2 separate regions of the Homo sapiens genome follow, and region 1 is reported to be linked to region 2. Evidence: microRNA targets listed by miRTarBase, many of them from high-throughput screens and not tested one by one. Region 2 holds a microRNA gene; the other region holds the end of a gene's coding sequence.

The links. Region 2 holds the annotated microRNA hsa-miR-552-5p (GUUUAACCUUUUGCCUGUUGG, at 2,895-2,915, shown strand). A microRNA usually pairs through its seed, bases 2 to 8, with sites in the 3' UTR of a target mRNA and lowers its output. Matches are read on the target gene's strand: a 7mer-m8 pairs with bases 2 to 8, a 7mer-A1 pairs with bases 2 to 7 and ends in A, and an 8mer does both.
Region 1: miRTarBase lists GALNT7 as a target of hsa-miR-552-5p. Seed matches in the 3' UTR shown: 7mer-A1 at 3,052-3,058.

The regions. Positions count from the first base shown.
Region 1 is chr4:173,320,578-173,325,968 of GRCh38, forward strand. GALNT7 (polypeptide N-acetylgalactosaminyltransferase 7) reads left to right here. Exons shown (of 12, transcript NM_017423.3): 12 at 1,003-3,390. The coding sequence ends at 1,140. Among named protein-coding and RNA genes, the nearest start is that of HMGB2, 11 kb to the right of the region's middle.
Region 2 is chr1:34,667,174-34,672,564 of GRCh38, reverse strand. MIR552 (microRNA 552) reads left to right here and starts at 2,871; the gene lies at 2,871-2,966. The region is part of intron 1 of LOC105378641 (a long non-coding RNA gene); the gene reads left to right.

The DNA.
Region 1 (5,391 bases), not on the chromosome of region 2:
CCAGCCCCACACAAGCATACAGTTTGTAAAGGGAGCGAGTACTTTAATAGCCGTTCATATAATTGTGGCTGTTTTTTTATTGTACACCACAACTTAATAATTAAGTGGTAGTTTCTTAAAAGTTATTTCCAGTGTAGACTGATATCCTTGAGCATTGTACCTCATTATATGGAAGTACTTGATACGTACTTCCCACTTCATCTCATAGAATTTTTTTTAAGTATACTGAGGGGTCAAGACTGAATAAAACGAATGTTTTGCTCCTTCATCAGTGACATCCTTAAGTGAAACCGGCATTTACTTTTCAACTGTGTGTGGCCATGAGCAATACAACTATAGGTACTAGCATAGTTTGATTCATGCTAAGGCACCATCAGTTTTACTCACCATTGCTTTTGCACTATCGGTATAAATGTTGCTAAAGTGAAAAGGCAATGGTGTCTTCGTATTATGATGAAAATAGTTTCGGCCTTACAGACCCAATCCTGGATAGTCTGAGGACCAGACTTTGAGAAGCTCTGAGCTATATTGAAGAAACCTACAGCATATGGTGAGGGCCAAACCAGGGCATCTGCAGTGGCGATGGGAAGGAATATAAACCAGAGACATTGCACATATCCATCCTTAGTGACTGGTATGTGAGTGAATGAGGAAAAGTGCAGTATTTCCTAAGGACTAGAGAGCTGGGAATGTCATTAGCCAGGATAGGAACAAGAGACATAGATTTGGAGGGGCAGATAATGAATTTAGGTTTGTATACATTGAGTGTGAGATACCAGCAGTATATTGTGACTTAACAATGAAAGATCTTAGGACTTAGAAAACTGACAATCAAGAGAAATCCAGAAAACTGACAATCAAGAGAAATCCAAAGTCTGAGGTGTGGTTGAGAAGCTTTTCCATTTCCTTAAACTGTCTCCTCATGAAAGTCAAGTGATGATTTCTGATGTCAGTGATATCAAGGGTCCAAATTTGAAACTTTTTTCTTACTGTGTTTTCCAGAACCTGCACAGATTTACTCATATTCCTTCAGGAAAGTGTTTAGATCGCTCAGAGGTCCTGCATCAAGTATTCATCTCCAATTGTGACTCCAGTAAAACGACTCAAAAATGGGAAATGAATAACATCCATAGTGTTTAGAGAGAAAAAAATAAACCAATAACCTACCTACTGACAAGTAAATTTATACAGGACTGAAAACCGCCTGAAACCTGCTGCAACTATTGTTATTAACTCTGTATAGCTCCAAACCTGGAACCTCCTGATCAGTTTGAAGGACATTGATAAACTGTGATTTTACAATAACATTATCATCTGCAGTTACTGTTTACAAGACTGCTTTTACCTTAAACTTTGTAGATGTTTACATCTTTTTGTTGTGTTTTAAGATGATGTTGGTAATTTGTGCCTTTAGCTCTGTTTTATTAGACAGAGTTAAAGCATGTTGTCTTCTTTGGGATTACACTCAGGGGTCTGAAAGGCAGTTTGATTTTTATTTTTAACACACTTGAAAAAAGGTTGGAGTAGCCAGACTTTCATATATAACTTGGTGATTATCAACCTGTTGTGTCTTTATTTAATTTTACATCTTTTTGAAGCACTGCCACAGGTTATTAGCCAAGGTGGCCTTCCTTCACAGTCATGCTGCTTTTTTGAAAGGTGAATTTCAACACATTTAGTGCCTCTTTCATTTCTCAGTATATATTTCAAGAGCTTGTGATGAAATCTATAGGATGGTAATGATGGACTTGTCACCTGTATGGGGAATACTTTTACTACTCAGAAATGAATTTATGTGCTGCCATTTGCTATAAAGTTGAACTTTGTATGGCTTGAAAAAGAAATGACAATATGGAACATCCCAAGGCTGTCCCATAGGGTTGGAAGTTGTGTAGCATTCACTCCCTTACCTACTGGCATTCCCAGTGCCCTCTGTCCATACCTACTTCTAGGATTGCAAAGGAGTCTTCCAACTAGAGAAAAATTGTCCACTGACATTTGGGATTTACTTTTCTCCAATACCTGCCAATACAGAAAACTATTATCAGTTGTTATTGTTATCCCTTGAAAGCGAGGGTGACAAAAACAACAAAACACCGTTATAAACACATCAAAGGTTCATTCTGACTGAGGTAAGACTTTCCAAGCCCTTGTTAGATTAGGCCTTATAAAACTTGTGTGCATTATAACCTAAGCTGTGCAACCTGTGAAGCCAAGAGTGAACTGATGTTTCATTTATATTTTCATCCAAATGACATTATCTGCACGTTTTTAAAATTTAAAAACAAAGGACTATTTAAAAATACAGTTTATTAACAAACGTGAACTACTTTCTGTTACATTAGGTGTTCCCTAGTGTTTCTTAATTTCTTTTTAGAAAGTGTATTTTTATTAGTATTTTTCCGGTGAACAGAAGATTTGTTTGGATTTAAACATTTACTAAGACAGTACCTATTAGGAAAACCAAATATTGCAAATGGTCAATTCGATTTTAATTTCTCAAAAGATACTCTGTTATCCAGAAGATTAAAATGCCTACATTGAGTGCTTAAAAAAAAAAAAACAACTGTGATGATGTGAGCAGAATGGCAAGTAAGTTAAGCATTTTTGATCCTGTAATCATGGTATCATTACAATGAAAGGAATTCACAAACTACTGCCAGAGGAAGTTTGTTTTTTAATTTAAGAGGGAAATATAACCTATAAATTTGTTTCTTCCAAGCTTAGCTCTTAAATTTGGAGACTCAAAGTTAAACATCCTCAACAGAGTTTTATTTATAATTTTGAATTGTCAATTTGTATTTTGCTACTGATCTGTGATCAACCATTTTAACTTTCATCTCTAGGGATGTTTAACATTTATAATTGCAAAATAAACCAACTATAAAAAAAGAAACTAAGAGAGAATTGGTACTTTAATTACTTGTGTGTTTGCAAATAGGCTCCATTTTCCATGTTGAGTAGATTATAACCTTATTAACTATGCATAGGCCTAAGAAAGGTGGCAATGAACTGTGCATGTAAATTTTAAATGGGTACTTTGTGCAATTCGTTAAAAGAAGATACTCTATGAATATGATTCTATATATTGAAATCAGAAAACCTACCAAACAAAAACATCAGAAGCTGCTGCCATAATGACTATTTTCTACTGTAGGCTGCTTTGGAAATAATTCCCATATCCTTGCTTTGTAAGTTGGTAATATCACTATGCATTTCTACACATTTTATAAATTTGATTTATGCAGATTTTGATACACTGTATGTTTCTGTAGAAATTGTATAAATATTCAAAATTTTATTAGGATAAATTTGAGAAACTTACGTATATCTTAATTCTGGGTTGCTTGTTTTTTAGGTGACAAAAATAAAATATTGTATTTTAATTCATGGGTTTTTTTGGTGCTTGTAATCATTTCAAATCTAAACACTGCACATTTGAAAGAATTACTTGATTTTACTATTTACAAGACACACAATACCTAAAATATTATAGACCATAGTTATTAGTTGAGTATGTGCTTGACTGTTGCTTAGCATTCTGTTACACATGCTTAGAATACTCAGAGCTTATGTATCTGTTGGAAGGAAACAAAGGTTTATTTTTACCTGTTTGCCTATGTATACCAATTTTTTAAGTTTATACTTTTTTTAATTATAAAAAATTACCCCAGCAACATATATCCTTCTTGGCTGTATATAGAATTGCCTTCTTGGCTGTACTATAGAATTGCCTATTAGAAGCAAACATGCCTTCAAATCAAATTTGTTTACAACCTGACAGATCAGGTTAAGTGGAGAAAAATGAAGAGAAGGGAAGCCTACCACAATGAAATTAGAAATAGTCCATAGCACCTTGTACAAAACACATCTCAAGAGAAGATACGGTTGCTAACAGATTCAAGTAAGTGGCTGTATTGATTTGGGAAACTTTCTCTCAACTGACCTGTCTATTGTCATATCTCCCAATTCTTAGCTGCTGTAGAAGTAGGCTAAGAAATTTGAAAAAGTGACAGCACCAGACTAGAATAAATGGGAGTTTCTTTATTTCTTAAGTTTCTCATAGGGATCTTGGAATATATTTCATTTCTGGACATAATTGGGAAAAAAATCCATATATAATTCAATGGAAAACATGACAAGTACCTCACCAGAAAGCCAGATACCTAATAGGCCAATAGTTTAGGTACGTGAAAATTATTCCATGTGAAAGCACTTTAAGAAGTGTTGAGCATTATGAAACTGTGATGTGATAAGTGCATCTTGAAGAATATCTAAGATATTGTATCCTTCAAATTACCTTTAAATGAAATTTCTCTTGGGCTTTTGGTTTGAGCAAATAAACCACAGCTGTATTAAGAATTAACTAACCGAAACAAAACTAAATATTTGAATAGAAAATAGGGATGAATAGACTTCCACTTCCGGCTATAATTTTAAGTGGACTTATCTTGCTACCCCAAACAACAGTTAATGCTGGACAAAATATATGAAGCAACTGTTTTCAGGAATTGGATACTAGTCAAAGCAGACTGATATCTAAAAGAAAGGAAATACACAAGGTGAATCCCAGGTTCACCATGTCTGTCTCCATGGGAGGACATTCCCAACCATGGTGCAAGGAATGCGGCTCAGAATGGTGGTATTGCTGAACTGAGGAGGCGGAGTGGAGGTTTCCGGCTGCTGAAACAGCTAGAATCTACAATCCAGGTTATTGGAGGGGAAGTACGCTTGAGTGTCAGGAGAGCTATACAGGAATTTTTATACCACAGCCATTTGCAATAGCGAAAACCCTGGAAGCAACCTAAATGCCCATTGACAGGAGAAAGGATGAATTGTGATATAATCACACAATGGAATATTACAGAGATGAATATGAATAAACTAGTTGTTATAAACAAGTTTTAGGTGTACAGGATTGAATGAAAAAGGCACTTCCCAAAACACTTTATTCAGCACTTTTTATCAATCTCAAAAGTGACTAAAAGTAAACATACAGTATGTTAATACATTTATACATGATAGGTTAAATAACTTGTCCAAGTTCACAAATTTAGTACTGGGGTCAAGGACATAATCAAGTCCAGTACTCAATATCCCTCTAACTCTGTGGGATGAATATTTATTTGGTGCCAGGAAAAACTCTCCTAAAGAATGTATGTTTTCCACATAACTTCTTTAATTTTCCTCTCTACCTAGACTATCAAGAACCTCAGGGCTGGAACAGTGGCTCACACCTGTAATCGCAGCACTTTGGGAGGCCAAGGGGAGAGGACTGCTTGAGTCCAGGAGTTTAAGACCTGCCTGGGCAACATAGCCATGTGTGGTGGCACACATCTGTGGTCCCAGCTGCTTGAGAGGCTGAGGCAGAAGAATCGCTTGAGTCTGGAA
Region 2 (5,391 bases):
TGGTTTGGCTGTGTCCCCACCCAAATCTCATATTGAATGTAAGCTGAATTGTAATCCCTATGTGTTGAGGTGTTAAGGGATCTTTGGGGTATCAATTGGCCAGAAACCTCTGTGGCTGGTGGCACCTTTGCTGAGGTCTTGTCCTGTGTCCAGGAAGAATGAGGTACACAGACAAGTGTAGGGTAAACACGATGAAGAGGAGGTTTATTGAGTGTTAGAATGCTCAGAAGAGACCTGTGGTGGATAGCTCCTCTCTGCAGGCAGGTCATCTCGTTGAGTGTTCAGCTTTCAGCAGAGAGGAGGCCCTGGGGTCTGTGGCTCCTCTCTGCTGGCAGGTTGTCCCATTAAGGGTTCAGCTCTCAAGAGAGAGGAGGCTCTAGAGAGGGTAACTCCTCTCTGCAGCTGGTCATCCTTGTCCTGTCAGGGGTTCAGCTCTCAACAGAGAGGAGGCCCTGGAGATGGTAGTTCCTCTCTGCAGGTGGTCATCCCAATGTCTGCTGCTTTCAACAGAGAGGAGGCCCTGGAGAGGGTAGCTCCTCTCTGCAGCCAGTCATCCTGATGTCTGCTGCTTTCAACAGAGAGGAGGCTCTGGAGAAAGTTGCTCCTCTCTACAGGCAAGTCTTCCTCTCTTCTTCCCAGCTCTCAGCAGAGAGGATAGCTCCTCTCTGAAGTTGGTCATCCCATCATCTCTCCATCCTCTACCCTGCTTTAGCTGAGCCTGGGGCTTTTACGGATGTCAGAGGGGAGGAAGTGTGTGTCAGTTGGTCCATGGGTGGCCATGGGCAGGCCTGAAAGGCACTGCAAGTCCCCACTTTGATCTGCGGGACTTACTGCTCAGCCCCCAGCCTTCAGGCCATCCCTGGCCTAAAGGTAGGGCCTTACTAGGGATCCACTCCCTTCAATCCAGGAGCCTGTCTGCCTCCTGCTGCCATCCATGGTGCCTATGGTGCCCAGGCTGCTTGCACCAAAAGGCACCTGCAGGCCAGTGCCAAGCCACCCTCAGCCCTCCCCCTCAGTTTCTCCTCTCATGCTCATTTTGCCCAAATTCTGGAGGAGGCCGAGGTAGCAGGGTACTGGCATGTCAGCACTGCCCCAAGCATGTGCACACCTGGCCAGGCTGTGCCAGTGCCCAGGATAGGCCCCAACCTGGCTCCAAGATTGGAGTAGGGTGCCAGGAGTGGAGAGGCCAGGCAGCAGGAGCAGACACTCTAGAGCCTGTGGGGCCAGGGGGTTGGGGGGGACTTCTGAGGCCCCCAAGAGTGAAGACTGCAGAGACTCTCGGGTCCTGCGCTTGGGAGGGTGGCCACAGCTGCACCTAGGGAACTCCCGCCTTGCCAACTCAAAAGGGGTGGGGCTCCCACTTGTCACCAGCTCCTGCCTGCCTCACGGAGTGTGCAGCCCTGGGGTGGTGCCTCCCTGCTGCAGCCTGCATGATGGCAGCGGCCACTGCCAACAGAGGGAGGAACCTGGTGGGAGGTGATTGGATCAAGGGGGCCAGTTTCCCCCGTGCTGTTCTCGTGGTAGTGAGTGAATTCTCATGAGATCTGGTTGTTTGATAAGTGGCTCTTTCTCCTTCTTTCTCTCTCCCTCTCCTACTGCCTTTTGAAGATGTGCCTTGTTTCCCTTTTGCCTTCTGCCATGATTATAAGTTTCCTGAGGCTTTCCCTGTGAGTCCATTAAACCCCTTTCTTTATAAATTACTCAGTCTCAGGTAGTATCTTTATAGCAGTGTGAAAACAGACTAATACACAACTCAATACGAAAATGGGCAAAGTAACTTAAATAGACACTTAATGAAACAGGAAATCTGAATGTCTAGACTGAATATTCAGTTTCACCAGGGAAGTAAAGGAACTATTTGTATTTATTTGTATGATTATTTGTAACTTGGGAAATACAAATGAAATAGATATCATTATATGCCCATTACATTGTTAAAATTGAAAAAAAGTCTGATAAGATCAAGTGCTAGCAAAGGCATGGAGTAATAGGAACTTTTACACTGCTGGTGGCAGTTCTAAGTGATGAAATTTCTTTGGCATAAATTCAGCATTATCTAATAACATTAATAATGCACATACCCTGTGATCCAGAAATGTTACTAGGTCTATACCTTAGAGAACTTATATAGGTGCAGCAGTGGACACATCAAGAAAGCCCATGGTAACATGGCTTGTGAAAGCAGAACAATAAGCAATGTCCATCAATAGTATAATGATACAGCAAAATACAAAACAATAGTAGAATGATACAGCAACAAAACCAAAAAAATCCATCTGCATAGATAAAACTGAGGACAATAATCTTGGGTAAAAAAGCAAGCTATAGACAAGTTGCTGAGTAGGAGAAGATATTTTCAAATCACACACCTGAAAAGGACTAGAATCTTGATTATATAAGAGCTCTCAAAACTCAATGGTAAAAAGAAAACAAGTAATCTACTAGAACATGGGCAAAACACATGAATAGATATTCCATAGTGTAAGTTATTCAAATGGCAAAAAAAATCCATGAAATATGTTCAACATAAGGGTAATGCAAATTAAAACCATGATAACATATCACTATGCATCTATCAGAATTGCTAAAATAAAAAAAAAATGAGAACACCCAACATTGGCAAGGATGTAGAGAAATAGGCTTGTTCATATATTGTTGATGGGATGTAAAATTGTAGATCTAGCCTAGAAAACAGAGGGCAGCTAATTATAAAACCCAGCATGCCTATGACCCAGCAGTAGCGCCCTCAGGTGTTTATCCCAGGGAAATAAAAACTTATGTCCACACAAAAACCTGGGGAGCTTTATTTGCAATAGCCAAGTGTTCACAGCAGCTTTATTTGTAATAGTCGAATATACTACAGTTTGTTTAACCATTCAAATATACCACAGTTTGTTTAACCTTTTGCCTGTTGGTTGAAGATGCCTTTCAACAGGTGACTGGTTAGACAAACTGTGGTATATACACAGGATGGAATACTACTCAGCAATAAACAAGCAACAAGCTATTGATTACAAACAACTTGGATGAATCTTTGGGGAATTATTATGAGTGAAAAAAGTCAATGCCAAAGGCTACATATGTATGATTACATTTATATAACATTTTGAAATGACAAATGTTACAGATAGAGAAGGGATTAGTGGTTGTTGAGGGTTAAGAATGTGGTGAGGTGGAGGGAGGTGGTTATAAAGGCACAACATGAAGGATCCTCATGGTGATGGACTGGCTGATGTCTTGACTTTAGTGATGGACACACACACACACACACAGACCACAAATGATACAAGTAAATTGGAGAAATCTGGGTAAGACTGGTGAGCTGTATCATGTCAATATCCTGGTTATGATATTGTACTAGTGTTTTAAAAATGTTATTGTATTAGTCTCTTCTCATGCTGCTGATAAAGACATACCTGAGACTGGGTAGTTTATAAAGGAAAAGAGGTTTAATGGGTTTACAGTTTCACATGGCTGAGGAGGCCTCACAATCATGGCAGAAGGTGAAAGGCACGTCTTACATGGTGGCAGATATGAGAGAAATGAGAACCAAGTGAAAGGGGTTTCCCCTTATAAAACCATCAGACCTTGTGAGACTTATTCACTACCATGAGAACAGTATGGGGGAAACCACCCCCGTGATTCAATAATCTCCCCCTGGGTCCCTCCCACAACACGTGGGAATTATGGGAGCTACAACTCAAGATGAGATTTGGGTGGGGACACAGCCAGACCATATCAGTTACCACTGGGGGAAACTGGATAAATGGTACACAGAATTGCATATGAATTTATAATTATCTCAATAACAAATTCTAATTAAAAATTATTAACTCTTTCACTCAAAAATTTCAGAAACAAATTTATCATAGCTTTGACTTGGCTACAAAAACCCCAAGCCATACAAACCTACATAACTGCAAGATTCTAGTCTTAGAGATCAAAAACGTATTAAACAATATATTGTTCAGGATATAAGGTGATAAAGAAAAAAAACATTGGAGAATGAATTCAGATTAGCATTTCTCTGGGTTACGAAGAGAGGCAATCAGATCAAAGAGGTCATGCTTGATGGTCACGCTTTCATTTCTAAACTGGATGGTGGGATACACGAATGTTCCCTTTATTGTTATTCTTTGTACAGCAGACATGTTTTATAAATATCTTTTGTACCCACTCAGTATTTAATGAAACCTTGTAGAAAGTCTTTGGTGTGTGTTGGTGTATATGTTGTGTGTGTATTTGTATTTGGCAATGTATGTTTCCACCTCCTGAGCCTGGCAAGCTCTTTCCTGCCACAGGACCTTTGCACTTGCTATAACCTCTTCTGAGAACTCTCCTTCTTTGGTTCTTCAAAGATTGTGGTCCCACCTCAGCTCAGGCAAGTGAAGTGAAGAGACTTTCAGATCAATGCGTATGCATCCTGAATGGTCTTGTTTGTTGATTCATGTATCTGCCTCTTCTGACTAGAATGTAAGTTCCCTGACGTCAGAGAGCTCCTCTAACTTATTCAACCATTACCTAGACGTGGGTTGACAGACTGAACGAATGCATATTTATGCATATGAATTTAGGGTCTAAAAAAAGCATGCCAATTGAAAGTGTTGGCTTCCTAAGAATTTCTTTGGGCTACTGACTATTTTACTCTTTAATAGTATCATGGTAAACTGGGGGTTAAATTGCTTTTGCAATTATTGAAGGTCTGAGTGAAGGGAGTTACGTAGAATAACAAGGGGCATGTCTTTGAAGGACACAGGTAACAGCAAAGAACAAGTTTAAAAGAGTTAAACACATTCTAGCTAAAGAGGGAATAAGTTTAAATTGGGTTATTTTCCCTGGAGATTATTGCAATTTTAAGAGTAATGCTGCTTCCAAGAATGTTAGCTTTTCTCTTGGTGACCATGGATATAACAGTGTGTGGGTCCGTCATTAATCAGGATAAGGCATTACAGATCTGGGTCCTATTACCCTAAGTTTGTTTGTAAAATGGATTTCTTTGCAGGCAGCACTGACGTGTGACCATGTGATGTTTGGATTGTGCTTCAGAGCAGGGGATGGCTTGGCAAAGGCCTTTGCGGTTTATAACCTATTTTATTTTCTACAATTGAATTTTGAATTTTGAAGTCCAATCAATTTGAGTTCTTTACAAGTATAATTTGGTTACCCATGGGATGGTTTGAATTTAAGTTTCATGGAAGTAAGTTTGCATGCATTTTGGTCTTTTTAAATTAATTCTCATTGGAAACGTTTCATTATTCTGAAATGTTTGGTGATAGTAATTGTGAGGCTAGAACTGCTTGTTCATAAATAGGGTTATTATTGGATCTCCTCATGCCTTGATTGATTTATGATGAAGAAGACACACCTGTAGCATAATGCTCTTTTTTTGGT